7 linked regions of the Homo sapiens genome follow. The protein of the gene in region 4 purifies or fractionates together with the protein of the main gene of each other region. This does not show direct contact. Each region holds a gene or a part of one and is shown on either strand. Other genes may lie near its edges.

Region 1 (4,304 bases), on a different chromosome or scaffold from region 4:
CATCAGCTTTCTACAGGAACACAGAAAGAAAGTGCAGGAGAGTTAGCACAATCAAACCTTTCATTTACACTGTCACGGGTACATAGCTTTGCAATGTTTATACCATCTGCCCTCTTTTTTAATTTCCTGTGTCCAAAGTACTAAAATCTGACAGGATGGGCCATTGCCTGAAACTTTTAGTGATGCCCCAGAAACCCTTGACAAATCTCAACACTAATCTGCTAAGAAACTTGCTCTGAAGAGCAGAAAGATGATTTTGGAGCCTGAAAATGTGCTCAGCACCTGCTCCAGAGAAAGCCACTGGGTTCTGCAAAGCTCCCAGTCAGAGAGGTGCCCAAAAGCGTCCTACAAGCTTAACAGTGAAATGTCCAATCCAGCAATGAGAAGACGGTCTCCAGGGAAGCTGTGCTGGTCAATACTTTACTCAGAACTTACAAACGCTTTATTACTGCCACGATCTTCAAGTGCGCTACCTTGTTTAGTGCATCTCAAGAAATGTACACCAGCTATTTGCAACATCTCTTTTCAATTAAAAAAAAAAAGTCAATGGCTTTCACTGTCACTAAAAGTAAACTGTTACTGGTAAGGTGGATTATAGTATTAATGTTTTAAAGATAGCAAATGTCTCTGAAATGGGATAGGTTATTTTACTGTAATAAATAATTAATTTTAATCCACCTGATTCTCCAATTTCAGTTACATCAGAAGACACTCAGCTGTCCCTCCTCTAGGGTTAGAGCGGCATTCTTCTAGCCCCACATGATCCTGGAAGCTCATAGCTTCATCTAGTTCCATGGTCAGAGAATACTTTTGACCACAGACAACTGCCTCTGCAGTGTCTTCCCCGGGTCACTGGAAATCAGGAGAGACACGTAAGTGACGCAAAGCTACGCCACCTCCACCTGGGAGAGGAACTCAACGCTGTCTATGACAAAACTCAACAGACCAACTTCACACACAGAGAAAAGCACTATTTTTAGTATTTCCACACACCTAGAGTGGAGTCTGTAGTTTTACTCCCCATGCATGTCTGTCCTGTACATTAAAATAAATTCCTGCCTCTTCTCTAGAAGGCAATACGGTGGGGAGTAGGCACTTACAAAACCACAAAAGATCTGTGAGCTGTTTGAAAAAAGATATTGAATAAAGGAGACCGTGCAATTTGCAAAACTAATAAACAAGACCCTCTCACACACTAGTAAATGCCCTTGCCACTAGAGTTATATCTTCATCCAAGTAGGAAGAGGCCAACATGGCAGCAGGGAGAAACTATGAGTGCCAGCACTAGAGCCTGGGTCCAACTTCCAGTTCTACCAATTACCAGCTATGTAGCTGCTGGTAAGTTACTTATTTATGAGTCTCCATTTTCATCTGCAAAATAGAATAATAAGTACCTCCTAAGGTTAACACATGAATTAAAAGAGTTAAATGTAAAATGCAAGCCACACATTCAACACATATATGCTGTCACTTCACTGGCTGTGAGAACATGACCTCGCAGCAGAAGGAGCAAAGCATTTGAAGTTTTATTTTTCTAGTAATCATGACAGATGCATACTCCTCCATCCACACTCTCTCACTCTACCATCTCTGTCCCTAAACCCATCTAGCAAAGCCCCTTCTAAACTGTCACAGTTTAAGGGTCCAATCAACACTTACCACCCAGTCACATCACTCTTTTGAAGATACATATGTTGCTAATACGTGTGACCCTCTGTGACGTGCTAATACGTGTTACCCTCTGTAGGTTTATTTTTAATTTAAAGTAGAAAATGAACCAGAAAAAAAATTTCTACTTTCTAAAGTAGAAAATGAACCAGAAAAAGAGCAATTTCACCTTTAGTTTAAACCTAAAGCCTTGGTTTTCAACCTTGGCAATGCACTAAAATCACCTGAGGAGCTTTTTAAAGCCTCCTGATGCCTGGGCCATCCCCCCTAGAGATGTCTGATAGAAGTGCCCTGGGTGAGGCCTGGGCTATTTTTAAATGACTCCTGTTCAAGCTAGGATTGAAAACCACTAACCTAGAACTATTGGGTGATAACAAAGTTAAAATAATTAGAGAGCCAGAGCAAACCAAATCTGTTCACTCTTTAAATGCTCTTTTCAACTTACAAACAAGGTATTTAAGGAAGCCTTTAAAAAATAAAGGGACATCCAGGCTGGGCGCGGTGGCTCACACCTGTAATCCCAACACTTCGGGAGGCTGCAGCAGGTGGATCACCTGAGATCAGGAGTTCGAGACCAGCCTGACCAACATGGAGAAACCCTGTCTCTACTAAAAATACAAAATTAGTACCAGGTGCAGTGGAGGGGTGACTGTAGTCCCAGCTACTCGGGAGGCTGAGGCAGGAGAATCGCTTGAACCCAGCAGGCGGAGGTTGCGGTGAGCTGAGATCGTGCCATTGCACTCCAGCCTGGGCAACAGCAGCGAAACTCCGTCTCAAAAAAAAAAAGGGGGGGACATCCCATAAAAGGTACAAGTATGAGAAAAGATACCAAGAAGCTCAGTAAAAGGAACGCTAAACAGATGAGAGTGTTATTTACATGCCAGCATTCTTAACGTGGGGAGGGAGCTGCCCCTAAGGCAGAGATGAGAGCACATCACATGTTCCCTTCTGGTTACCGGGTCAGGGTGATATGGTCAAGAATAAATACCACACCCAAAGGCAGCAGGTGCAGAGTTGGATAAATGAATAAAGTACTAAAGCTTGAGGTGGTCTTTCCTGATGACACTGACTATTAAGAGTGGGAATGCTGGAATTATGGCAGTCCTCCCTCCTGCCCAATGAAGGAATCCCCTCCTTAACATCAATCCTGTTAAGAAATGAAACCTGAGTTTTTAAGTTACAAATGGAGGCTTCAGAATCTCTTCCATTTCCCCACTCTAACAGTTAGATCAATTGTCCTCATTTATATAACAGCTTTCCCCACAAGCTCATGTATATACAATTTACCTTCAAAGCCAGTGGGGCAGGAAAGCTTCAACAGTCAGCAACAGAAAAGGGAAGCCAGGGAGCAAAAACTAGAAAGGAAAAGATCCCCCAACTTCAGGGGATGTTTAGCGCAACATTGGATAAGAGGAACTGATCTAAACTGAAAGATAGAGTATTAATATTAGAAGGTGAGGAGCAGGATGCGGTGTATTTAAGATGAAAATAATTAATGCAATGAAGATTTACTAGATGAAATGAGAGGGTGGGGCTAGAAAACGGACCACGCAAGTTATCTCACTTAAGCCTGTCAATAATCCAGAGATCAATATTATTAATCCCATTTAATGGGCGATACTACAAACTCAGAAAACTTAAGTAACTTTGCAGAGATGTCAGTGTTGTGGCACAGGTTTACTTGTTACATGTAACACGTAAGGACAGGCAAAGAGATTTCCTCCAACTTGCAATTATTGTTTTTAACTCAATGAATAACTTTAGAGCCAGAATATTTTTAAAGAGAGAAAAGCTTCTCTATGGCTGGATAATTTTAAGACCTCTCTCTGGAGAGGTCCTTGTTAACATGTTTACATCTTCCTGGCTGCTAGCTCCCATGACATCCATACGTACCTCTCCTGAACTGCTCTCTCTACCCTGCCCCACACCACTCATGAAGCAGGGCCAAGGGCATCTTCTTGTGCCCCATATAACAAAATATTGTAATTGCCTGTTTATGTCACTGTTTTTCTTTTTTTTTTTTTTTTTTTTTTTTTTTGAGATGGAGTCTCGCTCTATTGCCCAGGCTGGAGTGCAGTGGCATGGTCTCAGCTCACTGTAACCTCCACCTCCTCCCGGGTTCAAGCAATTCTCCCGTCTCAGCCTCCCAAGTAGTTGGGATTACAGGCGACCACCACCACACCCAGCTAATTTTTGTATTTTTAGTAAAGACAGGGTTCCATCATGTTGGCCAGGCTGATGATCTCAAACTCCTGACCTCAAGAAATCCGCCCATCTTGGCCTCCCAAAGTGCTGGGATTATAGGCGTGAGCCACCGCGCCCAGCCTGTCACTATTTTTCCTCTCTAGACTGTGTACTCCTTTTACATCTATATACCTGATCCCTAATACACTGCTCAATATACTAACAAACATAAAACAAATGTGTGTGGATTCAGCATGCAAATAAACTAAACCACGGACCAATATGATATGGCCAAGAGCCTTTCTAACAAGCAGGAGGAAGCAGCAACAGTCTATCCCTCTCCCTGCATCGCCCCTCCAAAAAATGAGAGAAATATTTTAATTTATAAATTCTGATCAAACACCTTTAGACACACTTGTTATGAAAACTGCCACAGAAATTAGCTTGGCTAA
Region 2 (4,304 bases), on a different chromosome or scaffold from region 4:
GTTTCAAGCTGACCTTTGCTCCTTACAAAGACTACAGTTACAAGCTGCTTCAGAGAGAGAATAATTAATGGGTATGTATTCAAAGTTCAAAAGGCAATCCCAACTAAATGCCTGCAAAGCTAGATTTTCAGAGGATGTTTTTCTGTGGTATGACGTTCTCTCCAGGGAACAATCTTGACAGAACTTTGCAGTTAACCCAGAGCTTCAAGATGGTGACTATGGGATAAAAGGGGTGTATATCTACAACGGTCCTGTGCCGACTGTTAATTTGTAGAGAAAACTAAACAACCTAATTGGATCATTGCATGTATGTCTAAGTGTTTTGGGAAGTTAAAAACACTACCTAAATATGAAGTAATTTATTTAGAGGACTTAGGACTTAAGAAAGGGGATTCAAATTGAACTGCCACCTTCAAGACCCCAGTCTTTACTTAGTGGGTAAGGGAAGAAAAACTTTAAGGATGTAAAGGGATTCTTTCAGACACATATTTGTTACGCCTGTTTTATATTTTAAAAGTAGTCTGTGATACTGTGATTTATAATAAATATATTATTTTGGTCTTCATCCCTAATTCCTAGCATAGAGCTCTAAAACCCTTGTGATTTCCTAAGCAATAGGGGTGCTAGGAGAATCTTGTGTTCTAACATTTGGCCTTTGACCCTGATTCCTGATGCAGAGCTCCTAATCCCTTGGGATTTTCTGGGAGATAGGAGAGTCTTTTGTTCTATTAAGGTAAGTCTTGGTGGAGGCTTCTGTATGGGGCTGGTCGCCAGAAAGACCAAACTATGATTAGAAGCTTGGAAATTTCAGCCCCACCTCCATGCTCCAGAAAGAATAACAGATCATCCCTATGTAATAAAGCCTCCATAAAAATTTCTCAACTCCAGGGGACTGGAGAGCTTACAGGTTGCCAAACACAGGGAGGTGCTACAGGGTGGCTCACCTGTGGAGTACAGGGAAGCTTGTCACCCCTTCATGCATACCCTGCCCCATATACCTCTTCATCTGGCTATTCCTTTGTATCATTTAAAATATCCTTTATAAAAAAATAAGATAAAAAATAAAATAACCTTTATAATAAATCAGCAGTAGTAAGTAAAGTGCTTCCCTGGGTTCTGAGAGCCATTCTAGTAAATGATGGGGCACAAGGAGGGAGTCCTAAGAACCCCCAATTTACAGCTGGTTCATCAGAAGTACCAGAGGCTTGGTCTTACAAATGACATCCAAAGTGGAGTCAGTCTGATAAGACTGACCCCTTAACCTATGGGATCTGACTCTAATTCCAGGTAGATGGTAAAAGAATTGAATTGAATCATAGGATACCTAGCTAGTGTCAGAGATTAGTCAGTGTTGGAAAAACTCACACATCTGGTCCAAGAAGTGTTCTTCTGTGTTGAGAGTTTGGTAGGAGAAAAATGTTTGTTTTTCCCTATTATACATAGTACCAAACAAACAAAGTGCTTTCCTATCTTACTATCTACAATGTTGTGCCATCTAAATGATTTTCCTTGAACCTGACCACTTAATATAGACTGGCATCAAAAATATCAGGGTATAAATGACAACTCCTGGCACTTCCTAGCCAGCTATCCTTAAGCACATTAACCTCTCTTAAACCCGAGCCTTGTCTATACAATGGGGATCAGAGTATGTTCTACTCTAGGTGTTGGTGGCAGGAGAGATTGTATGCAAAGCGCTTAGCTTCCTAGACAGTGGGTACTAGCAGGTTGTTAGACGACCACACCACCCTCTAATATGCACATGCTTTTTTATACTTAAGAGCTTCCCATTATTGTAGCCCAGGCTACAGAACTCTCCTCTCTTCCTAACAATAAAAATTATCTGTTCCTTTATAATCTGAGATTTCTGTTTAGAGCAAATCTAAGCAAATGTCTCCCATAGTTTACATATGTACAGGTTACCCATGGTTTTCAATAAAAAGCCATCTTCTGAATGAATAAGAATTTTCCCAAAGGAAGAATATTAATAGTTGGCATTTTAGGCATCATAAATAGTAGAAAACAAGATTTTTGGCTAAAAGATAAGGGTAAAATAGGCTGTTGGTGACTCTCAAATCACATCACACCTGTGCATAAGGCCAAGGCTAAAGATTGGTACAGAATAGCTCCAAATGAAGATCTAAGCAAAGGGTAGCAACTAAGACCCTCAAGCCAGCCCTATTTTTATGAATAACAGATTGGAACATAGCCTCGTTCATATTGCCTATGGCTGCCTTCCCAAGACAAAAGCAGAGGTGAGTAGTTGCAATACAGACTGTATGGCCCGCAAACCCCCAAATATTTACTAACTGGTCCTTGACAGAAAAAGTTTGCCAATCCCTGCTAAGTCACAGTTCTCACACTTGTATCCACTTGTGTGAACCAAGTGATAGATACACAGGTGTCATATTTTATAGTGAAGGAGAAACTTAGAAAAAGTGCATTCCATTAACATGAAAACCAAAAAAAAAGTAAAATAACAAAGAAAATAAATAAAAACCTGTGGCTACGCAAAAGGAGTAGATTAATCCTGGAATACTAACTGACTCTTACATGCTTATTTCCTCCTGTAAGACGCTTCTAAATGCACTTCTTGAATTGACGTGTTAAAAATGGATTGATGTCTATGTCAACAGCAGGGCGATAAAATAAACTTGCCTGCTTAAACCCTTAGCTTTCTCATTTAATAAAACAACAAACAATACAAAATGCATTTTCAGAGGTGCTGAGCTTGGTCCGGACCTTAAGATTGTCAACGTCACATTAATGAAACTCAATTCTAAAGAAAATTCATCTTGAACAAAGGCCATTTTTTATACAAAGTGGGTGAAAGAAACATACCTATTAATATTTATAAAACAATTTTCACCATCAAAAGCACATTGTTACATGCTTGATAGATTATACAAATGTATTTTCCTTCTGAACGAATATCAAAGAAAGCTGTGGTACTTATATGCATAGGGTGTTTTGTTGTTTTGTTTAGTGGCGTGAGATTCTGTGAGCTGCTAATTCAACAATCTCGATAGAAAACATGACTGGCAGTTAGAGGCCTCTGACCCTAGAATTTTAACAGAAGAATGTGTCACAGAATTAAACAAAAGAAGAATACATTTCAGAGGGGAAACTTACACATAAAAGGAACATAAAACAGCAGGAAATAAGACTATCATAATTAGTTTGAAAAATAATCTGTCTTCAAGCAACGTACTGCGTTTGATTTGTGATAAATAACCATAATGTACTATTGAAACACGCCTTGCCAAAATGGCCTTAAAATGCTGATACTTTCAAATTAGTCCCACTTCCCATTAAATATTGATGTTCTGAGAGTTGTATACTTTTTAGAACTTTTTTTTAGTGGCTGTGAAAAGAGAAAATAGGTATGGGGTGGGTAGGGGGGTTGGGGGAGGTAGAGAACCGAAAATGTTCTTGAAAATAGAGTCTTGTGTATAAAGACAGAAACAGAGAAACACCCACCAACAACATGGGCACTTGCTAACAAGAAGCAACGGGGTGGTTATTTAGGGAAATCAATCCGAAGAAAGAAAGGAATTTGATGTGCCAGTTAACTGTGGATCACCCAGCTTTAATTCTCACGGAATCTTAGCCAGATAGTCACTGCTTCAAATTGGATCTCATTCCTTTGGCCCAGTGAATGGATTTCAGCTTCCAACTGATGAAGATGCCCCAAAGCAAGAATTCTTAATCTCTAGACTATGGACAGATTGGGTGAGGTCGTTCTCTGTGAACAGGGACCATCCTGTGCGTTGTAGTTTAGCATTATCCACGCCAGTAGCATAGCCTCCAAGTTGTGATGACTAAAAATGTTCCCTGGGGGACAAAATGCCCACCCTTCCCATGGAGTACAACTTGCTTTAAAGACATCAGAAAAAGGAGTCTGTGTACAGATAGAGCTGGCTGAAGGTGAGAAGAAATATGACATGAAATTTCACAGTGGCTAGCAAAATGAATGAATGAATACATGAATGCGCAGGTAGATAAATAAATAAATAATGATAAAACATTGCTTCTTGCTTGGCTGCAGAATTAATGAATGAATTGGCACTGCATTTGGACAAACAAGGAAAATAACGATTAATTTCTATTGACTAAGTAACAGTTTATTTTTGTTTCAATAAGGTTGCATCTTTCTGGTAGGCATGTTTTGACTCAGTGTCCCTTCTTCCATTAAGAAACTGTATGTCTCCTATACCATATGATTCTTGCTCAGTGGCTGGCATGGGCATAGACATGTGACCCAAGCAGGGTCAATGAGAATCATTTGAAGGGATTTATGGGGC
Region 3 (4,304 bases), on a different chromosome or scaffold from region 4:
TTTTAGTAGAGACGGAGTTTCATCGTGTTGCCCAGACTGATCTTGAACTCCTGAGCTCAGGCAATCCGCCTGCCTCGGCCTCCTAAAGTGCTGGGATTATAGGTGTGAGCCACAGCGCCTGGCCCGAGAGTTGTCGATATGCTCGCAGGAAGTATTTCTGTGTTAAAAAGTTGAGAAGATGGAAACTGAATCCTCTTTGTATTCAGAAGGCTGTTTCGGAAGGTCACTGTTGGCAGGCTTCTCCCTACAGGGATTCAGCAGTGAGGGAGCAGAGTATTTGGGGGACAACTGCTTCTTCTGGAGGGGCGAGAATGAGATGGAGTTCACCAGCAGCTCTTTATGTCAGACTTTTAGCAGGATTCAGCTTTATAAATAAGCCTAAACAAACAAAATAACAGCAGATGATTATATGTCAACTGACTTCAATTTGATGGACTACTCTAAATAGAAAGACATATACAAAAGAAGGATTTGATTCACATTTGTAGCTTCAGTCTATCTGTCCACTCTCATTTTTCAGCCAAATTAAGAATCAGCTTTTGACTATCACAATACTGTATTACTTCTCCCTGGGTAACCAGGTCCTCACCACTTGGCCATTTCATGGTTCCTCACTACTTCCATTAGAAATGAAAAGAACTAAAATTACAAGTGAGCCATCTGGCACCTTTATGATATTGAAAGGTTTAGTGAGACAGGAAGTACAAACCACAGCCTGGAATGGAGTTCTTAAATTGACTGTGGATTTAAGTTATTATCTTCCACCTGCTCCTTAAATCCATCATTCCTGCAAATGCTTCATACTTAAGAGGAAAAATAAATTTCTTAAACAAGATACAAAAAAATTAGCCATAAAGGGAAAAATGTAATAAATGCAACTAAATTGACATTAAAAATTTCTGTTCATAAAGAAGATACCTTAAAGCAAATAAAAGACAACTTACACACTGTAAGGAGGTATGTGCAACTTATATATCCAACAAAAAATTGTTCTAATAGAAAATATATAAAGAACATCTATAAATCAGTAAGAAAATGAGAACAAATGGAAAAAAAGCTGAACAAACAAAAATTTCACAGAATGGGAAAAAATATGGTCAATAAACATATGAAGAGACACTCAACCACACAGGTAATCAGAGAAATGCAAATCAAGATCACACCGAGAAGTCATTTTATAGTCATTTGACTGGCAAAAATCATGAAGTCTGACTTCACTAATTGCTAGAGAAGATGGGAATCTAAAGAATCTCATATATTGCTGGTGGGAGTTTAATTTGGTACAGGCTTAGAAAACAATTTTGCATTCCTCTGTAAAGCTGAATACTCACAATACTCTACCACCCAGAAATTCTGTTCCTAAGTATATGCCAAGCTCTTGCCCATGCACACCACCAGGAGACATGAACAAGAATGTTTATAGCAGCCCCATTTGTAATAGTCAGAGGCCTGTCACTGGAAGAGAGACATTCATTGTGGGACAGTCACATATGGAGTATTACACAGTGGTACAAACAAGTGAACACAGCCAACAACATGGATGAACCTCAGTACTCCAGGGAAGTAACAGGTCATGTGTGTGACTTTCCTGAGACAGTCTACACACACATAAATATAGACATATTTTTCTTATTTATGGTATCACAATATTTCACCATTTTTTAATGGCACACACATACAATATAGTTCATAGGTGAGCTGTAGTTCTTTAACCAGTCTCCTATTGATGGATAGCTATGTTTGCTACGTTTTGCCATTTTTCTTGCTATTGCAAATAATGTTGCATGAGTGACACAATCACTGGAACCCGATAGCAATCTAACACATTATAATTTTGCAGTTATTATACCTGTGAGATAAAGTCCTGGAGGTGGGTCAAAGGGCATATCACTTTGTAAATTTTTTTTTTTTTTTTGAGACAGGGTCTGGCTCTGTCACCCAGGCTGGAGTGCAGAGGTGCGATCTCAGCTCACTGCAACCTCTGTCTCCTGGGTTCAAGGGAGCCTCCCATCTCAGCCTCCCAAGTAGCTGGGACTACAGGCGCACACTACCATGCCCCGCTAATTTTTTGTATTTTTTGTAGAGATGGGGTCTTGCCATGTTGCCAAGGCTGGTCTCGAACTCCTGGGCTCAAGTGATCCTCCCACCTTAGCCTACCAAAGTGCGGGGACTACAGGCATGAGCTTATGCATTGGGCTGTAATTTTGATAGCTGTTGGCAACTTGCCCTTTACTAGCAATGTATAAGAATATCTTTAACTTGTTCTTTGTATGACAGGGAATTAAGAATTTTTTGGCATGTATGGGTTATAATACCAGGGCAAAAAACCAAACCAAACCAAAACACCCCCCTGACCCCCACAAAACCCAAATCAACCAACCAACCAACCAACCAAAACTCCCAACCCAACCCAACTAAACCCCAAGAAAGAGATAAGACCAGCTTCTTACTTGTCGCCTCTGAGTATAGGGTCTTCTCATCAACACTCTGAACATTACAGGAAACAAAAAATTTCCTTCCTTCAACTTTATCAAGTTGGCTATTTATCATAACAACAGAACAAAGAGGGATAGGTCTGCAGAATAAAATGAAAAAGGAAAAAAATCAGTTTTTATCTGACTTATATAACATTAAAAGATGATCAAGTACATGACAAGGGATAGAAATTTATGACACCTGACAACAATGAGCACTGACTGCCTTAGACAATACATTCCTCAAGGACTCTGACACCAACAGCCTCTCAAGCTCCCCCTCTCCCAAGCACCACTGCTCTCAGGTGGCTCCTGGGCTACAGTCCCTGGATGTCTCTCTGGGCTTGTTTCAAAGGGATCATCAGGAATTCCAGCTCTGTGATGGCAGAGACTATCCCATCTGGAGATCCACTGCAAAGTCCTAAGGGAGCTGAAATGCTTTAAAGAAGTGAAAATAGGGCCAACAGATGGTCCCAGGCAGCTTCTCTCATTTCTTCTGTCATAATCAACATTTCTCATTCAATTCTGAGTAATGGTCACTAGAAAGACACCTAATAACAACAAATTGCTGATAACAGCTTACTGCTCTAAGTCAGTACTGTCCAATAGAACTTTCTGTGATGATACAAATGTTCCATATCTGAGCTGTCCAACCTGGTAGCCACATGTGCCTAATGAGCACTTGAAATGTGGCTAGCATAACTGAGAAGTTGAGTCCTTAAATTTATTTAATTTGAATTAATTTATACTTAACTTTAAATAGCTACATGTGACTAGTGGCTACAGACGTTTCTGGGAATCCTGGAGAAACATATCACAATGAAAGGATATCTCTTTAAAAGTGAAATTTCAGTTGGTTGAAACAGAAGGTAGAGCACGGAAACGTGTTTCGTGCTCCTATGGTACTACCAAGCAGATGATGGAACTACCCCAGGTAGAAAGGAAGTTATCACTGTGATGATCTCTCTGCCCAGTTTTCCTTTCAATGAACTTTTAATACTTCCACTCCCATTAGCTTTTCCTTTGCTCTTTTGTTGAGTCAATTCAACATTTACTAAGACCCAGGGGACATTAGGTGTTCTCGCCTGCCCAGCAACTCCCTTTTCTACTAACATGACTCTCTTCATTTATCCATCCCCTACCCTCCCTTCATTCTCTTCATATCTCTCTCTTTGATATACTCATGTACCCCTTTTGTCAGGGAACCACCTCTCCCTCATTCTTAGCCCATGTAGGTTGACTGGCATTGAATAATGATCCCTCCACTCCACACACACATAGTGACCAGTTGTGGGGGTGGGCACAGGCTGAAATAGTCAATCCTGGAACTTGTGCTGTAGCCCTTGGGGCTGGGTTCTTTTTCTCTGAGGCGCTAGGCTTACAAGACATAAGCCTGGCTGGCCTGGCTGGTGGCCATTGTGCCACTACACTGGGAAAGGCTACGTAAGGATGAAGCAGATCTAGAAGAAAATGTGGCTGAGATTCCTAATGACATCACTGAATATCTGCACTCAGCCACACCTGACTTCTCAACCATACAAGCCAATATATTCCCTTTTTTGCTTAAGCTAGTGAGAGTTAAGAGTTGCCCTTGTAACAGAAAGTCCTAGATTAGTAAAGAGACTAACAGAAAATGTTTCAGAAAATACAAAATAATGCAACAACTATACAGTGTAATTTTCTAAATGTAACTAATATTTAGGCACAGATCAGTTTGGTTGGCACAGGAAACTGGCTTTAGCTTGTTTTCCTTCGTTTAGCTAGAACACTTAATTAGATTTGTATTAGAGGCAGAAAAGTGATAACAAAGATAAAAGCAGCATTTAAAAA
Region 4 (4,304 bases):
CGCGATCTTGGCTCACTGCAACCTCCACCTCCCGGGTTCAAGCGATTCTTCTGCCTCAGACTCCTGAGTAGCTGGGATTACAGGTGTGCACCATCACACCCGGCTAATTTTTGTATTTTTGGTAGAGATGGGGTTTCACCATCCTGGCCAGGCTGCTCTTGAACTCCTCACCTCATGATCCACCCACCTTGGCCTCCCAGAGTGCTGGGATTACAGGCGTGAGCCACTGTGCCCGGCCGCAAACTGTACGTTCTGTTTTATACTTTTATATTCAATAATATATCTTGGAAATTGTTTTTTTGTTTTCTTTTTTTGAGACAGGATTTTACTGTCTTGCCCAGGCCAGAATGTAGTGGCATGATCACAGTTCACTGCAGCCTCAACATCCCCGGGATCAGGTGATCCTCCTACCTCAGCTAGGACTGTAGGTGCATGCCACCATACCTGGCTATTTTTTTTTTTTTGTAGAGGTGGGGTTTTGCAGTGTTGCCCAGCTGGTCTCGAACTCCGGGGCTCAGGTGATCTGCCTGTCTCAACCTCCCAAAGTGTTAGGATTGCAGGCGTGAGCCACTGTGTCAGGCTGGAAATTGTTTTCGTATTATTCTATTAAGGGGCTTCCTTCATCTGTGTTTGCAGCTATCTATTTTGTTATAAAGAGACTATAATTTATTTAGTCAGCTTCCAAATGATGTATATGTAGGGCTGTTTTCAGTGTTTTGCTATTACAAGCTGTTCTGTAAGAACCAATCTTATACTCTGAGGTTTTAACAATGAAGATACTAAGATGACAGCAAGAGTAAGAAAAAAAAAAAAGCTGGACAAGATGGCTCACACCTGTAATCCCAGCACTTCAGGAGGCCAAGGTGGGCAGATCACCTGAGGTCGGGAGTTAGAGACCATCCTGGCCAACATGGAGAAACCCCATTTCCACTAAAAATACAAAATTAGTGAGGCATGGTGGCGCATGCCTGTAATCCCAGCTACTCGGGAGGCTGAGGCAGGAGAATCGCTTGAACCCGGGAGGCGGAGGTGGCGGTGAGCCGAGATCGTGCCATTGCACTGCAGCCTGGACAACAAGAGCGAAACTCCATCTCAAAAAAAAAAAAAAATGAGGTTAAGAGTGTAAGCAATTTGTGATGTTTGCAATGTGGATAGAGCAAAACAGGTGACTGTATGTCTGCATTGGCAATGGTGGGATAGAAGTGTATGCTAAAGTGGTAGCAGTGGTTATCTCTGTGGCAGAATTACTAGTAGTGGATTTTCTTCTATTTTTCTGCATTTTCTAAATTTCCATGATGGTTATTAGGTTACATTTATAATAAGGAAATAATATTTTTTAAAAAATCATATTTTTCTCTTTTTCTTGGAATATTGAGTAAATTCCCTACTTGTAGAAAGAGTTGGGGGAGTCTTTTTAAGTCTAATTAAGGACACTTAATGTCCTTAATTAGATATCTAGCAATGATTCCCATTATCCAATATTAATTTTATGTCATTGAACACTTTCAAGAGTTTTTTTCTAGCTAAGAAAAGTTAATAGGCCCACCGTGGTGGCTCACGCCTGTAATCCCAGCACTTTGGGAGGCAGAGGTGGGCGGATCACTTAAGGTCGGGAGTTTAAGACCAGCCTGACCAACATGGAAAAACCCCATCTCTAATAAAAATACGGATTAGCTGGGCATGGTGGCACATTCCTGTAATCCCAGCTACTCGGGAGGCTGAGGCAGGAGAATCACTTGAACCTGGGAAGCGGAGGTTGCAGTGAGCCGAGATCACGCCATTGTTCTCCAACCTGGGCAACAGAAGAAAACTCTGTCTCAACAACAACAGCAATAACAACAATACAGTCAATAAACCTCCAATTTGGGGATATGTACATGTGCAAGCAGGTAACTATTTGATTTATACCTACTATGATGCCTGCCTCACAATTAACAATTAAAATTTTTCTCAATTGCTTGCACATTTTCGTTTGTTTATTTGAGATAGGATCTGTCACCCAGGCTGGAGTGCAGTGGTGTGATTATAGCCCCTTGCAGCTTGGACCTCCTGGACTCAAGCAATCTTTCCACCTCAGCCTCCTGAGTAGCTGGGATTACAGGCACATGCCACCAAGCCCAGCTAATTTAAAAATTTTTCTTGTAGAGACGAGGTTGCACTATGTGGCCTAGGCTGGTCTAGAACTCCTTGGCTCAAATAATCCTCCTGCCTTGGCCACTCAAAGTGTTGGGATTGTAGGCATGAGCCACCACACCTAGCTTACACTTCTATTTTTTTTTTTAAAGCAGTTTACTCATTTATGTAGAGACTTTGGGGTAACTTTGGCTTTATTAATTCAATAAATGCTTATGGAGCATCTATCAGGTGCCGGGTAGTCTACTAGGTGATACTCGAGCTATAAGGCATAGTCCCTGTCCTCAAGGGATTTATAAGCTTATAAATTATACCTTAGAGTGGGAGATAAATAAACAGGTAATTATATCCAGCATAATCCAGCATGGTAAGTAATATGAGGGAGTAAACGGTAGGATGGTGGGCACATAGCTGGGATCCCCTAACCCAGCCTCATGAGTGCAGTCCAGGAAGGCCTCCAAGAGAAGGTTAGCCAAGGTAAGGTCCCAAATGGGACAAAGAGGAGAAGGAGTGGAGTGCTGGAAGTTGTTTTAAAGAAGGAAGAAGCCTGTGTGAAGGCTGAGAGGGTCTGGCTTATTTGGGAGGATTGCATTGCTTCAGCACAGCTGGAGGGTGCAGTGGTAGGGCAGATAGAGTGGAAAGAGAACCTCGGGAAGAGATTTTGTCTGACAAGGAGATTGGACTTTATTCTGAGAATAGCTACAGTAGGTATCCAAAATCCACAGGGTTATAAGCAAGGGGGTGACATCAGGGCAGAGATGGGAGGGCTGGAGAGGAGGAGGCAGGCCCTGCCAGGAAGAGGCAGGCCCTGCCAGGAAGAGGCTGTGCCAGCACTTCATCTCTAGGGATTAAGGTGCCCAGATTAAGGAGGGCCCAGGAGTGAGGTGCTGTGTCTGGTATGGTCCCTCATCCTAGCTAGCAGTGTGAGTGTGGCTAGAAAGACTGATGGCTGGGACAGCCACCTTTCCAGTTGGTCTGTGGTTTTAACTGGGATTTGTGAACCATCGTATTCGTGTGGTATGGTTCTATACTGTCCAGCTGCCTTTAATTAAAATAAACACCTTGTAGGATTATGGGTGACTTTAAAGTTTGTAAGTTTGTATTTAAAATACAATATTTTTGTTTGTTTTTTCTTTTCTTTTCTTTCTTTTTTTTTTTTTTTTTGATACAGGGTCTTACTCTGTTGTCCAGGCTGGAGTGCAGTGGTGCAATCCCAGGTCACTTCAGCCTCAATACCCTGGGCTCAAGCAGTTCTCCTCAGCCTCCCAAGTAGCTGGGACTACAGGCATATAACCAATCACACCTAACTAATTTTTAATTTTTTTTGTAGAGTCAGGGGTCTTGCCATGTTGATCCAAGTCTCAAACTGAGCTCAAGTGATTCTCCCGTCCCAGCATCCCAAAGTGCTGGACATTGTAGGCATGAGCCACTGCTCCTAGCTGATTTGTATTTTTAGTTTCTTATAGTGAATGTAAAGATTTGCGTAATTCATTTTATTTATTTATTTATTTTTTGAGGCGGAGTCTCCCTCTGTTGCCCAGGCTGGAGTGTAATGGCAGGATCTCGGCTCACTGCAACCTCTGCCTCCCGGGGTCAAGTGATTCTCCTGCCTCAGTCTCCTGAGTAGCTGGGATTACAGGCACCCGCCACCACGCCCGGCTAATTTTTGTTTTTTCAGTAGAGACAGGGTTTCACCATGTTGGCCAGGCTGATCTTGAACTCCCGACCTCAAGTCGGGAGTCCACCTGCCTTGGCCTCCCAAAGTGCTGGGATTACAGGAGTGAGCCACCACGCCCGGCCTGCATAATTCATTTATTCAACATATATATAATTATTAGAACTCCCCCTTCCCATCTTCCACCAATAAATGAGCCACCTTGTCTTGAATTCAGAGAAGTTGGCCCAGGGATTCGTCAGGTAACATAAAGAATATGTGAGGCCAGGCGTGGTGGCTCACTCCTGTAATCCCAGCACTTTGGGAGGCCAAGGTGGATGGATCACTTGAGGTCAGGAGTTTGAGACCAGCCTGGGCAACGTGGTGAAACTCCTTCTCTACTAAAAATAAAAAATTAGCTGGGCATGGTGGTGCGTGCCTGTAATCCCAGCTACTCAGGAGGGTGGGGCTCGAGGATTGCTTGAACTCGGGAGGTGCAGTTGCAGTGAGCTGAGAT
Region 5 (4,304 bases), on a different chromosome or scaffold from region 4:
TAGGCCTCTTTGAACTCTGCATGGAAAAGAATGCTGAGGAGGTATGTCTGTTTAAGCTGCCACTGCCTGCCTCTCATAAATAATATCTCACATTGCATAATAGCCCAGATAAACTGCAGATCGCTTAGAGCCTGATAAATGAGAGGAAACTGTACAGTTTGTTTTCCAAATTGCCCTTGGACAGCTAATTCACAATTTACTATTTTATAGCTGTAAGATTTTAAAAATATAAAATAACATAGCTGTAAATACAGATTATCAGAAGATAGTCTGTAAAAATGTAAATATAATATAGCTGTAAATATACACTATCGGAAGTACCAAATCTAGTTTTAGTAGGTAGAGGCATCAAGTAAAATGGAAATGAAAGATGTTTCAAGGAAAACTCCAGGACATCTGTGGCAGTACTAAAGAAACCTTCCTTCTCAGGTTCCCAGCATGCTATTTTATTGATGTAACAACATTTTCAATAAAGTTGGTAAATTATCACTATATTACTGTCTTATAGCAACATAGCAAGAGCTTTAGAGATCATATAAGTATAAAATGTGAATTTAAAAAAACAATGAATATGCAGGATTTTTATTAGGGCAAGCGTTTCCATAACCATAAATATTTCTTTAAAACAAATAAATGTCCCAAGATCTCTGTTAGTGATCCAAACTAAGTAGAAATTAGTAAAATTAATTATAAATGAACAATTTCAGCATATAAACCAACAAGTCTTTTCTAGATTTTTAACACTGTGACCCAATTGCATTATTTTCCAAGTTAGAATGACTAATAATCAATGAATGTAAAAGCAATAATTAATACAGATGACATTGTACTTTTCCACAGTAAAGAAATAAACAATCTAATATTTTTATAAATCCCATTTTATATCACAAAATAACCTTTACTAAGCAAATTTTTTTAAAATCTCAGGAACTATAGACATGATGAAAAGATAGATATTTTATATAAATAATTCAAAAATACTGTCAGGCAAGGAAATGTAAAATCCTTATTTGAGTAAAAGAAAATGCTATAAAGCAATGAGTTATCAAAATACAGAAGAGGTATTCTAAAACAAATGAAAAACCAAGATGATGAAATAGTGACAACTACTTCTAATGTGTAACAGATACTGAAATGCCAAGGTGAAAGTGAACTGAATTATTTCTTAAAGCAGTGGAGAATATGTAACTTTCAAAAATGCAAGAAGCACAGCAAATTAACTAATTAACTTACCACCTCCTTCAAATAAAAGCGAGAACCTCTTGGGAGAATTTAAGCACCATTAGCAGACACATCTTAGAGCAGTTAATGAAATGTTTTGTATTTCAGTAGAAAACTATTTCAATGGTGAAAATGATGCAGGAATCAGAAGCATATTCTGCTGAGAAACTAGGTAGTTGACACTTTCCCGAACTGGAAAAACATTTCATAAGAAGGCATACAGTTATTGGTTGAATCACATTTGTTCTAAAAATAATTCGTGCTTAGTGAAACAGCTTACCAGCCGCCACAACTCTGGGATCCTCATGGGACTTATGTCTCCCAGCTGCACGACTATCTGCACTCTCATTCCACCAAAGAACATGAACTGCAGAAATAAACCACAAGTAGTTTCTGAAATATATGGCAATAGCAAATAAGAAATATTGAAAAAGTGAATCAGAAATGTTGTCTTATTCTTTAAATCAAAATCAAAAGGTAAAACTAAATATGTTAGTTATAAGATTTCAGAGGGATCAGAAATTTGGAAGATAAATTTATAAGTTAAACTGGAAACATAAGGCTGAAGAGAGAATGCAAAGAAACACAGCTTAAGGCACAATTAAGACTAGACCCGAGTTTAATGACTTCCTACTATGTTTTATTTTTTAAAAAAAGCAGATTATAAAAAATTGTTTACTGTAGAAAATTTAGGTGATACAAAGAAAAAATAAAAGTTAGTATAATCTTAACTGCCTAGATAAACCTTTATCAACATATGGTGTGTTTCCTTTAAAAAAAATTAGTAAACCAAATTAGGGTCTTAGTGTATATTATACTTAGTAACAGATTTTTTAAAATGCTGCAACAATGTGAGAATTTTCTATGTCAATGATATTAATTTTGAATGACAAAGACACCAAAAACAATCATGATAAAAACAAAAATTGACAAATGGTATCTAATTACACTTAAGAGCTTCTGCACAGCAAAAAAAAAAACAAAAAAAAAACTGTCAACAGAGTAAACAGACAACCTCCAGAATGGGAGAAAATTTTTGCAAACTACGCATCTGACAAAGGCCTAATATCCAGCCTCTATAAGGAACTTAAACAAGTTTATAAGAGAAAAAAAGAATCCCATTAAAAAGTAGGTAAAGGGCATGAATAGTCACTTTTCTAAAGAAGACATATATGAGACCAACAAACTTATGAGAAAATGCTCAATATCACTGATCATTAGAGAATGCAAATATAAACCACAATTAGATACCATCTCACACCAGTCAGAATGCCTGTTACTAAAAAGTCAAAAAATAACAGATGCTGGTGAGGTTGTGAAAAAAAGGGAACACTTACACCCTGTTGGTGGGAGTGTAAATTAGTTCAACCATTATGGAAAGCAGTATGGTGATTCCTCAAAGAGCTAAAAGCAGAACTGCCATTCGACCCAACAATCCCATTACTGGATATATACCCAGAGAAATATAAATCATTTTACCATAAAGACATGTGCACGTGAATGTTCACTGCAGCACTATTCACAATAGCAAAAACTTGGAATCTTTTCATGAAAACCTATATGCCCACCAACAACAGATTGGATAAAGAAAATGTGGTACATACACACCATGGAATACCATGCAGCCATAAAAAAGAACCAGATTATAACTTTTGTGGGAACATGGATGTAGCTAGAGGCTATTATCCTCAGCAAACCAACAGAGGAAAAGAAAACCAGATACCACATGTTCTCACTTATAAACGGGAGCTAAATGATGAGAATTTATGAACACAAAGAAGGAAACAACAGACACTGGGGTCTACTTGAGAATGGAAGATGGGAGGAGGGAGAGGATTAGAAAAGATAACAATTGGGTACTGGGCTTAATACCTGAGTGATTAAATAATCTGTACAACAAACCCCCATGACATGGGTTTACCTAAGTAACAAATCTTCACATGTACCCCGTGAACCTAAAATAAAAGTTAAAAAACAAACACCAGTTCAGCATTTGAAAAAGGCTCCATAAAGTATTAACATTCTAAAAAAATAAGATGTAAAATAAGATGCTTATAGATTTTTTCAATCCTATAAACAACAAACTCTAAAAATTTGGAGATAAAAATTAAAACAGGTACCAAAATGAAAAAGAGAGACGAACTGATCTAATACACATGGCAACTTCATAGAACAAATGGACAACTGTACCTCTGTTGAGTTCTCCATATTCTGTGTGGAAAACACCAACTACTTTTGTGTAGCCTAAATTGACATGGGCATTAATTGCTCTTTCAAATGCATCACCCCACAGAGCTGGCCCACCAGGTTTCATCTGAAAAACAGCTAGTTCATAGACTCCTAGAATAGGGAGAAAAATAATTATTTCACAGAAGACATTCAAACAATTTCTAACCAGGTTTTCCTGATTTCATTAGAAGGCTAACCAATGAAGTTAGAGGATAATCCATGTATACATACATATGCAGTCACATTTATTGATTCTCTGCATTATTTTTCTTTGCTTTTATGTTTAGAAAGTCTTTGTCCATGTTTAAGGGTCAGTTGTTAAAATTAATCATAAAGAAAATAAAGAAAAAGGACTGGAAGCTATATATAAACTACACTCTGAAATATTTTTAATCTATAAAATTTGTCAGGAAAACAGATACTGAGAATGTATAATGAAGCAGAATTTTCAAGCTGCCTGTCTACACTTTTTAAAAAAGAAATGCATAAGAGAAGTACTTTCTGATATCCTACATTTCCTTCTCCTTTTCAATTTTGAGAGGAAATAACTTTTTCCTTTGTATAATTTTCTCCGGTAGGATTCTATTTCTAGTTGACCCAAAGTCATGTCTGAGCCTTTAAGGAAAAAAAGAAAACCCTCAAGGAGATGGTTTTATTCTTCCTAAATATCCAGGTAAATGCTTAAAAACCATTCTACCTTCTGGCCAGAAGTATAAGATGGGTGGAGAGAAAGAAACTAGAGGACAAGGTAGATTGGACAAGAAAAAGGAAAGAAATACAAAGTTACTAAAGAATTATGAACAACATAGAGGAAGGGAACTATTAATAAGACTTGACACTGAGAAGTCAACTGT
Region 6 (4,304 bases), on a different chromosome or scaffold from region 4:
GTTCTTATACATGCTCAAGTTTGAAAACCACAGCCCTTGAGAATGCTAGGGACAACAGTCCATAAGGAGCCTGGTGCCAAGACAATCTCATGGAACACACACTTAACCTCGACCCTGATTTTTCAAGAAAGAGTGAGAGAGTGAGTGAGAGAGAGAGAGAGAGAGAGACGGGGCTCCTCTCTTCATTCACAACCAAACCTGAAACGTAATACAGGTGGCGTGGGGAAGATGACGATGAGAAACTTAACCCAACAGCAAAAATCAGGAAAGGAATGCATGCAAGTATAATAAGTAATAAGCAAGATGCAAAGAATAAAATCAAGTATATCTGGTATGTCAACAGTCAGAATTCCTCTACCAAAGACAGAAACCATGCAATTAGGTTTGTTGCTGTTATCATTGCCTTCTGTCAACCTCCATCCACCCTCAACCACGTTCTGATTATAAGAGAAACAAATTTTATTTACGAAGATTCCATCTTCAAGATAAACTTTTTTTTTTTTTTTTTTTGAGACCAAGTCTTGATCTGTCGTCCAGGCTGGAGTGCAGTGGCACGATCTCGGCTCCACTGCAAGCTCCGCCTCCCGGGTTCATGCCATTCTCCTGCCTCAGCCTCCCGAGTAGCTGGGACTATAGGCGCCCGCTACCACGCCTGGATAATTTTTTATATTTTTAGTAGAGGCGGGATTTCACCGTGTTAGCCAGGATGGTCTCTATCTCCTGACCTCGTGATCTGCCCGCCTCGGCCTCCTAAAGTGCTGGGATTACAGGCGTGAGCTACCGCGCCCAGCCAAGATAAACTTTTTTAAGTGAGAAAGAAATATTTAAAACTAAGGGTTGGGCAAAGACATACCAAATAAATGCAAAGAAAAACAGAGGTGGAAATATTAATAGTAAAAATAGGCTGGGCACAGTGGTTGGCTGGGTGCAGTGGCTCATGTCCGTAATCCCAGCACTTTGGGAAGCTGAGGTGGGCAGATTACTTGAGCCCAGGAGTTTGAGACCAGCCTGGGCAACATGGCAAAACCCCATCTCTACCAAAAATACAAAAATTAGTCTGGTCTCAAAATAAATAAAAATGAAAAAATATGTAAAATTTAAAAACATATATGTTGAAGACTTTTCGATAATCCTGCCTTAGCAAGCCAAGGGGTTTTTCCAGCCATTTCTCTCTGGCATTTGCCTTTATCTGTAAACACAGTACTTGGAGAACTACTCACTAGGATCTCAGGGTACAACAAGGCATAGCCTAGTCCAGCCCGCTGAGACAGTTTATGTGGCTTAAAACACAAGCACAGAGATGAGCTTATGACTTGGGGCCCGCGTCTTTCTGACTTCTGGCCCTGAGAAGTGTTTGTACTGGCTACTCTGTCAAAAACTCATCTTGCTGTCTGGAATGAGGAAGGAAATGCGTAAATGAGAGGCAGAGCAGTCCGCTTCTTGGACCTACAGGAAGGGGCAGGAATTGCAAAGTGAGAGAAGAGGTTCCCAGGCAACGTCCCAGGAGTTTGCACGCAAATCTCATTTTATCCACCCCTCCTAAAAATCTGGCTATCATGGGAACCATTAGGACAGCCAAGGACAGGGAGCTCATGGTCATCAGTGAGACCTGATTACTAACCGCTCCATGTGAGCCTGAACAGAAGCTAAAGGGGCATGGCTTGAATGTCCTCTGATGCCTGCATTTAAATTTCTGAGCCTTTCACTTATTATCTTATAAAATGCACTTATTTATTAATTTTAAGACTGTAAAGAAAAGAGATTCTCCCAGATCCTTGGCCATGTATTCTCCTAAAACACAGACAATATGGAATTTAAGACCAAAGACCAAAGGCATTAAATAACCAGCAAATGACAGGTAGGAAGATCAGCTTGATAAGCCTATATACATGAAACACGAAAGCCAAACTCAAAAGGCTAGAACTCCCACAAATATAAGTAGAGCTGGACTTTAAAAAACTACAGTGAGAGTTTTTGTTATACCTCTCAGAATCTGACAGCCAGGCAAGCAGGGATATAAGGGTAACTGAAGTTAAGAGATCTATCTAAAGTCAGCGTCCCGCAGAGGACCTATTTTCTCCTTTCACGCCCATGAAACATGTTAATATTTATCATGCAGTTGGCCACAAAGAAAATTTAATACCAGCCAGGTGCAGTGGTTCACTCCTGTAATCCCAGCACTTTGGGAGGCTGAGGCGGGGCGGGGGGATTGCTTGAGGCCAGGGCTTTGAGACCAACCTGGGCAACATGCTTCATTCACTCATTCATTCATTCATGAGAATGAATCCACTTTGTGAAAGAAGCAAACCCTTGCAGGTACCTAGGTCTGCCTGAGCACGGAGCGCCGTGGGGAGGGATGTCAGTGGCAGGCCATCCACATGTTCCCTTCTGGGATTGGAAAGGGAGCAGGAGGGTAAATCGAGGCAACAGAATCAAACACTCCCTCAACGACGTCCTCTTCGCCTTCAAAGCCAACATTTCAGAGCCTGTCTATCATCAGATCCTCACGTCCTGCTACTCCTCACCCATTCACTCCAACCTCGCTTCTGCTCACATCATCCCACCAAAGCAGTGAAGGCAGCCACATCTCCTCCATATCACTCACCACAGCCGCGATGCCAAGCTGACCACTCCATCCCACGAAGCAGACTCACCCTGGCCCCTGGGATACAACTCTGTCCTGGCTTTCTGGGCCCCTCTCAGGTCGCTCTTTTTCTGGGTCCTTTATAGGCTCATCTTCCTTTACTCAGCTGTTCGAGGTGAGTTCTTCAATCTCGCTGTGCCCATGACTTCAAATACAAACACAACCTAGACAAATGTCTGTCTAGCCAAGACGCCTCCTGAGCCCCAGACCCACCAGCTTATTTGGTATCTCAAAGACACCTCAAACACAACATGTCCAAAACCAAATACATGATCTTCTTCATCCTCCAAACCTGGTCCTCATCCAGTGTCCCATGTCTCAGGGACACCAGGTGGATGACTCTAGGGTGAGTGGGGGCGGTCTCTCCTTTTAAGCACACCACGCAGGGCGAGGCCAACAGTGGGTTCTCAGTAATAAGCAGTTCTACAGGAACATGCCTTGTCACCTACTTCCTAAAAATAGCCGTGACCTTTTTAGTGGACACAGCAAGCTCACATCTGTTATCACCACTCCTTCCCCACTGTCACACGCACCCTTTCCCCCAGTGGTGCCACTCCCCAGGCTGGATATGCCATATGCTCCCTAGCCTCCCTGTGAGCAGCCTCCACATTTCTCTTCTCTGCCCTCACTCAGATTTCCCCCATCTCATGTCCTCCAAGTCAGCCATCCCCAAGTGTGAGGGGCAGGGGACACCTGACTTCCTTCTCAATTTCCTTTCCTTCTTTTCTGCTAAGGCGGAGCCTAAGCCCCTGGAAAGCTAGAGATCCCAGAACCAGGCTTTGACCACCGCACACTCCACCCTCTGCTTCACAGCTCCTGGCAGTCACACACCCACGGTATCAACATTGTCATCACCACCCGCTAACTGATCTCAAACCCCTTTGCAAACATCTTCTCATCTGATTCTCCATTCCAGGCAGGCATTTTATCATCCAGAACTGTTCTGTGGGGGGGAAGCGGGGGGTCTCTGTGTGGCTGGGTGGCTTGTCCTAGGATACCTAGCACAGAGAACTCTGTCCCCCAATTTCTTAGTTGCCCCCACCCATTCCTTCCTCACATCAGCATGGGCAAGGCCAGCTGTGGTTTGGGTCACTGTTCAGGCTGTACTTTTAGGATCCTCCCAAATAGCAAACAACTATGTGACTATCAGGTCTTTATTTCATGGGTTATAGGAGATAGGGTCAGTAAGCCTAATGTGTAACAGTTTCAGTGGTTATTACAGAGTTCCATTGAATTGCAACAACTCCCTTTAAAAGCACAAACTCCCACCAAGAAAATCTCAGTTTCTTCATTAATCCTAAGAGCTTTCCTATCTAGGTATCACTCAAAATTCCTACTATTCTGGGGGCAATGGGATCAGAGGGTGTTGCAGAGAAAAATCCAGAGAAAGTGAAAAGTCTACTTCCTTGGCAGTGCTGGTGAAGCATACCCTTACACAGACGCTTCCCCATGGGAACAAGTGCCAGGAACTGCTTCAGGCTTACGGGGGAAAACAGTGGCTAAGAAGAGAGAGGAGGCCGGGCACGGTGACTCATGCCTGTAATCCCAGCACTTTGGGAGACTGAGGCAGGCAGATCACCTGAGGTCAGGAGTTCAAGACCAGCCTGGCCAACATGGTGAAGCCCCGTCTCTACTAAAAATACAAAAATTAGCCGGGCAT
Region 7 (4,304 bases), on a different chromosome or scaffold from region 4:
GGGAAGGTTAAATACTTGCTCAGAGTCAAGTGGATATAGGGCATAGATCCAGGACTGTGTGTAGTCTGTGCATGTTGAGCCTACCCCTTATGGCTGCGCTCTCTGCCTCCTTCCTACCTTCTCAAATGCTGCTGAGGTCAGGCAAGGGGAGCACAGTTGTTTCCGCTGGATTTGAACACTAGCAAGTCATTGGTGAGTTTAGCAGAGCAATTTCAATGGAAAGGTGAGAGTAGAAGCCAGATTGTTGTAGACTCCAGAGTAAAGGAACTGGAAATTAAGAACATGATCAACTTATTTAAGAAGGACCCCCGGGAAGAGAGGAGAACTGATAGGTAGAGTAGGACCTGGACTTTGAGAGCCTGTGTTTTTTTCATATGAGAACAACTTGAATGTGTCATATGTTGAATCACCAGGAAGAAGGGATTAAAGATAAAGGCAGGGAGGGGGCAGTGAAACAGGATCCCTGAGGAAGTGAGAATACGGGTTGTGGGCAGGGGAGGGGAGCAGGTTAGCCTTGCAGCAGGAGGAGCTGCTCTTCCTCGGAGAGAGGATTTCACAACACTGGCAAGAGTGGCTCCAGTGCCTGGAGCGGGGATTAAAGCAGTAAGTCCAGTGGGGTCCAAGGGCCATGCAGGGGTACAGTGAGGAGAAAGCAGGTGTGATCCGGGTGGCACATCAGATCCTTCCAGCAACCAGTCTGTTAGGAGCAAGGGCAGATGTTGTGAGCCCCTATGTTTCCCCCAAGAAAATCAAACCTCTGAGAGGTTTCTCACTTGCTTATCTTCAGCTGGCCGAACTCAGCCTCAAACCCATATGTCCTGTCTCCAAGTTCAGTGACTGTTATCATCAACTTCTTCAACAGTAATAATAATAGATCACATTTATGGAGTGCTTGCCAGGGCATGTTTACATCATTATCTCATTTAACACTCAGAACAATCCTCTGTGGTGGGTGTTTTCATCGTTCCCATTTTGCAGGTGAAAAAACTGAGACTTCAAAAGGTTAAGTGACTTCCCAGGGTCCTACGACCTACATAATAAGTGGCAGAGCCAGGATTCAAACCTAGGTTATCAGAATAATGCAGCAAAGCCCAAACCCTCAGCCCCTTTTCACTGACTGGTAAGACCCATATTTAATTCGATGCCCTACATGCCGTGCACAAGTTTCAGTTTTCTGAAGCATCGCTTAGATGCTTAGGTGTTTAGCACCACTCTGAACTCTGACTTTTCTAGAGAGGCTGCTAAAGGCATTAGAAAGTTTCTGAAGTATAATGGAAAAACCCTGCTGGAGTAAGTGCCTGGCACACTCAGGATTATCAGTGTGATTCTTTATAATAAACAGGCTCCCAGCACCAAGCCCAATCTATTCCATCAGCTGGATAAGAGCTCTCTGGCAGGCCTTGGGCCAAGCTGGCTTCCTTTGCCTCAGCAGAAGAGCATTCTGATTCTCTCTGCCATCCCCAAAACTGACAGGAGCAGAGAGAAACAAGGCAGAGGCATGAAGGGAATGTCCTCTGCGGCAGATGGTGCTTCCGGAAGAGCTCCCACAATCTGAGCTAGAATGAACAGGGGCTAGATCCAAGTCTCATATAGGCATACTTCTGCTTGACAGAGTGGGCATGCCGAGGGCCGTTGGGTGGAGGCAGGCGTGTGCAACCCAAGCAGACATGAGACGCAGCTCCTTCAAGGCAAGGTTGCCTGAGCCCAGAGAGGCTCAAATTTGTGCCCCAACTTCCTCTGTGGCTTTTGGGTGGGGCTCTTCAGAATCGAAACACACTCAGAGGGCTGCTGAAAGGGCTAAGAAGTGTTCAAGGTTGGCTTCCATCAGGCTGCTCATGACAATGGCCCCTGAGGTTTTAACACCCTTGAACGCTTGGTACTAAATCAATTAGAGGCAGGGCAGGAGCAGAAAGAGTTGGCGCATTTGATCAGTAAGTTCCAATGCCAGTGCTGTCTATTATCTGTGAACTGTGTTAACTTTGGACACGTCACTTCACCTTTTTGAGCTGTTTCCTCGTCTGTAAAAGGGGGATAATACCCATTCCATGAGGTAAAGCTTTGAGCACAGTCTCTGATGTAAGCAGGTACAGAATATATAGATGCTGTAAGTTTCATGGTCCCATGGAAGAATTCAAAAGGGTTAGATCCCGCCTGCCCTCAAAAGGGTATGTGTTAGGAAATCAGAGTAATACCTAAGTAGTAAATTGCAGAGTCCAGAGACTCTGGGACTCAGACTTGAAGGGATGAGTGAGGATTGGACTAGGACGACTTCACGGAGGAGGTGACAATGAGCCTCAAGGTATGATGCAATATGGAAAAGGAGGGAAGAGAGTGGGAAAGGAAGGAATTTCATGCAAGCAAAACAACTTGCATGCAGTAACAGAGGAGAGAGGATGCTAACCCAGTGGATAGGGTGGCTCTAGAGTGTGGATGGTCTCCACGTCTGGCAGAAAAGGCTGGACTTGCTGCTGTGGCCCCCGGGACACAGCACAATGAAGGAGGCTCCAGGCAGTCCAGAGTGTGCAGGGTCCAATGCCTGCCCTTCTCAGACAGGACCACCCATCCACCCATCAGGGCCCAGGGAGCAGGGGTCAGAAGGACCTCATGACACAGAGTTCTGACTGTGATGACACACTTTCCCCAGAGGGGAGGGGAAGGGGAGAAGGGGTTAGAAGACCCCACTGAGAATGGAGGCATCCTAGCTGCAGAAGCACCTGGCTGGTAGGCTAACAGCACTTTGTGGGTCTCGTTCCCAGGAGATCTGCGCTGACCCCCAGTTTATCATTGGAGGAGCCACCCGCACAGACATCTGCCAAGGAGCCCTGGGTAAGTGATAGATTCAGAGCAAGCTGGGGGATCTTGTCTGTAAGGCTGTGGGTGGAAGAGATGAGGGACAACCTGTGGCTTCTCTCCCTTCCCAAGCAGCTTGGCAATTTCTATTTGCAGAGAAGCTCCATGGAATTTCTTGGCCCTAGCGGGCAATGATTCTACCCTCAGCCCCATGCTGGGGCACACAAATGAGGCCTCCTGTGTCCCCTGCACAGGGCTAGTTGCTGAGGTTACAGAGATGCTGCCACTAGGAGGACCAGGGGGCTTCTGGATGTCAGCCACCCCTTGGTATGCACCTCCTGGAGCCAGCATTACCAGTGGTTCACGAAATACACTCTGGGCAGAGGACTAGGTGGGAGGACTCCCCCAGACCAATGACAGCACTGAGACATCAGTTCTGTGAGGTTCAGGAACCAGGGAAGGTGACTCAGTGTAAAGAAAGAGGAAACTCTAATGCTCGCTGCTGAAGGAAGTTATAGTACCAGGGCATTCTCAGTGTTTGCAAGACAAGCTCACCATGGTATCACAGTTGTAACGCTCATTTAAGTAAAATGAACTGGAGTAGCTGAATTGTCCAAAACCTTGCTTTCTGGAGCCGAGTTCAGATTTGTTTCTGGAGATAGTCCTTGTTGAAGGTTTCAACCCACAGGGTTCTCCACCTTTAGTATGAAAATTCCCAAAGCTTCTAGGAAGTCCCAGCAATGGGGCCTGGCGCTGTTATCTAAGATTCTCATAGAATCTGCCCTCAATGTTCTTTTACTCATAATAAATGTGGGCCTATAATTACTAGAGCAGATTATTTGCTCTGATAAACCAAAAATCTATTTTCTGCCATCAGCCTCAGCTGGCTGGCTCCCCAGACAAGTTCATCAGTAGCAAAATCAGTCAACTAGAGTTGTACCTCCTGTCCTCACCCACCTAGCAGAGGTTCTGTTACTCATATACTCCTAATACCAGCTGATAACAGCTAATATGTATCTCTAAGGCACCGTGATTATTCCCATTTTATAGATGAGGATGCAGAGGTCTTCCTACAGCTAAAGTGGTGGCTGGTACCCCTGACCCCAGGGTATGTTTAATTCCTGAGCTAGACTCCCTAAGACGGGACCTGGAAAATTTTCTAGCCCTGAGGAATGTCAGAGCATCATGTGAATCATTAGGACAGACAGACTGTGAGGAAGAACATGAGCTGGGCGGGAAAGTTTGTCTGAGCTCAGGCTCTGCAGATTCCTGAGATGCCAGAGCACATTCTTACCTGCAGAAAACACTCCTTTCATTTCTTTTCTTCTCGCCCCACAAAAGACAGAAGATAGAGGTCCTTGAGCACCCAAGGCGGATCCTCCAGGAAAATCTATTCATTAGAGAAAATGGAATTGATGGAAACTTTGACCAACCCCGGGGGCTTTAGAGAATCCAGAAACAGCCGGCGCAGTGGCTCACATCTGTAATCCCAGCACTTTGGGAGGCCGAGGCAG

What was found.
Region 1: the proteins of ALDH7A1 (region 4) and CAT fractionate together in Homo sapiens (co-fractionation; one large-scale study listed by BioGRID). This does not show direct contact.
Region 2: the proteins of ALDH7A1 (region 4) and SUCLG2 purify together in Homo sapiens (affinity purification with mass spectrometry; 2 studies listed by BioGRID, with this or other methods). This does not show direct contact.
Region 3: the proteins of ALDH7A1 (region 4) and THEM4 fractionate together in Homo sapiens (co-fractionation; one large-scale study listed by BioGRID). This does not show direct contact.
Region 5: the proteins of ALDH7A1 (region 4) and NIPSNAP3B fractionate together in Homo sapiens (co-fractionation; one large-scale study listed by BioGRID). This does not show direct contact.
Region 6: the proteins of ALDH7A1 (region 4) and ANXA11 fractionate together in Homo sapiens (co-fractionation; one large-scale study listed by BioGRID). This does not show direct contact.
Region 7: the proteins of ALDH7A1 (region 4) and CAPN2 fractionate together in Homo sapiens (co-fractionation; one large-scale study listed by BioGRID). This does not show direct contact.

What each region holds. Positions count from the first base shown.
Region 1 is NC_000011.10:34,444,898-34,449,201, reverse strand, and holds part of CAT (catalase), read right to left. Parts: intron 11-4,304; coding exon 1-10. UniProt on the Homo sapiens protein: Catalyzes the degradation of hydrogen peroxide (H(2)O(2)) generated by peroxisomal oxidases to water and oxygen, thereby protecting cells from the toxic effects of hydrogen peroxide.
Region 2 is NC_000003.12:67,500,857-67,505,160, forward strand, and holds part of SUCLG2 (succinate--CoA ligase [GDP-forming] subunit beta, mitochondrial isoform 2 precursor), read right to left. Parts: intron 1-4,304. UniProt on the Homo sapiens protein: GTP-specific succinyl-CoA synthetase functions in the citric acid cycle (TCA), coupling the hydrolysis of succinyl-CoA to the synthesis of GTP and thus represents the only step of substrate-level phosphorylation in the TCA.
Region 3 is NC_000001.11:151,874,551-151,878,854, forward strand, and holds part of THEM4 (acyl-coenzyme A thioesterase THEM4), read right to left. Parts: intron 2,576-4,304; coding exon 2,451-2,575; intron 379-2,450; coding exon 338-378; 3' UTR 1-337. UniProt on the Homo sapiens protein: Has acyl-CoA thioesterase activity towards medium and long-chain (C14 to C18) fatty acyl-CoA substrates, and probably plays a role in mitochondrial fatty acid metabolism. Plays a role in the apoptotic process, possibly via its regulation of AKT1 activity.
Region 4 is NC_000005.10:126,577,632-126,581,935, reverse strand, and holds part of ALDH7A1 (alpha-aminoadipic semialdehyde dehydrogenase isoform 1 precursor), read left to right. Parts: intron 1-4,304.
Region 5 is NC_000009.12:104,770,106-104,774,409, reverse strand, and holds part of NIPSNAP3B (protein NipSnap homolog 3B), read right to left. Parts: intron 3,562-4,304; coding exon 3,412-3,561; intron 3,177-3,411; coding exon of another isoform or gene 3,139-3,176; exon of another isoform or gene 3,094-3,138; intron 1,589-3,093; coding exon 1,502-1,588; intron 1,414-1,501; coding exon 1,337-1,413; 3' UTR 1-1,336.
Region 6 is NC_000010.11:80,198,605-80,202,908, forward strand, and holds part of ANXA11 (annexin A11), read right to left. Parts: intron 2,790-4,304; exon of another isoform or gene 2,655-2,789; intron 1-2,654. UniProt on the Homo sapiens protein: Binds specifically to calcyclin in a calcium-dependent manner. Required for midbody formation and completion of the terminal phase of cytokinesis.
Region 7 is NC_000001.11:223,715,006-223,719,309, forward strand, and holds part of CAPN2 (calpain-2 catalytic subunit), read left to right. Parts: intron 1-2,756; coding exon 2,757-2,826; intron 2,827-4,304. UniProt on the Homo sapiens protein: Calcium-regulated non-lysosomal thiol-protease which catalyzes limited proteolysis of substrates involved in cytoskeletal remodeling and signal transduction. Proteolytically cleaves MYOC at 'Arg-226'.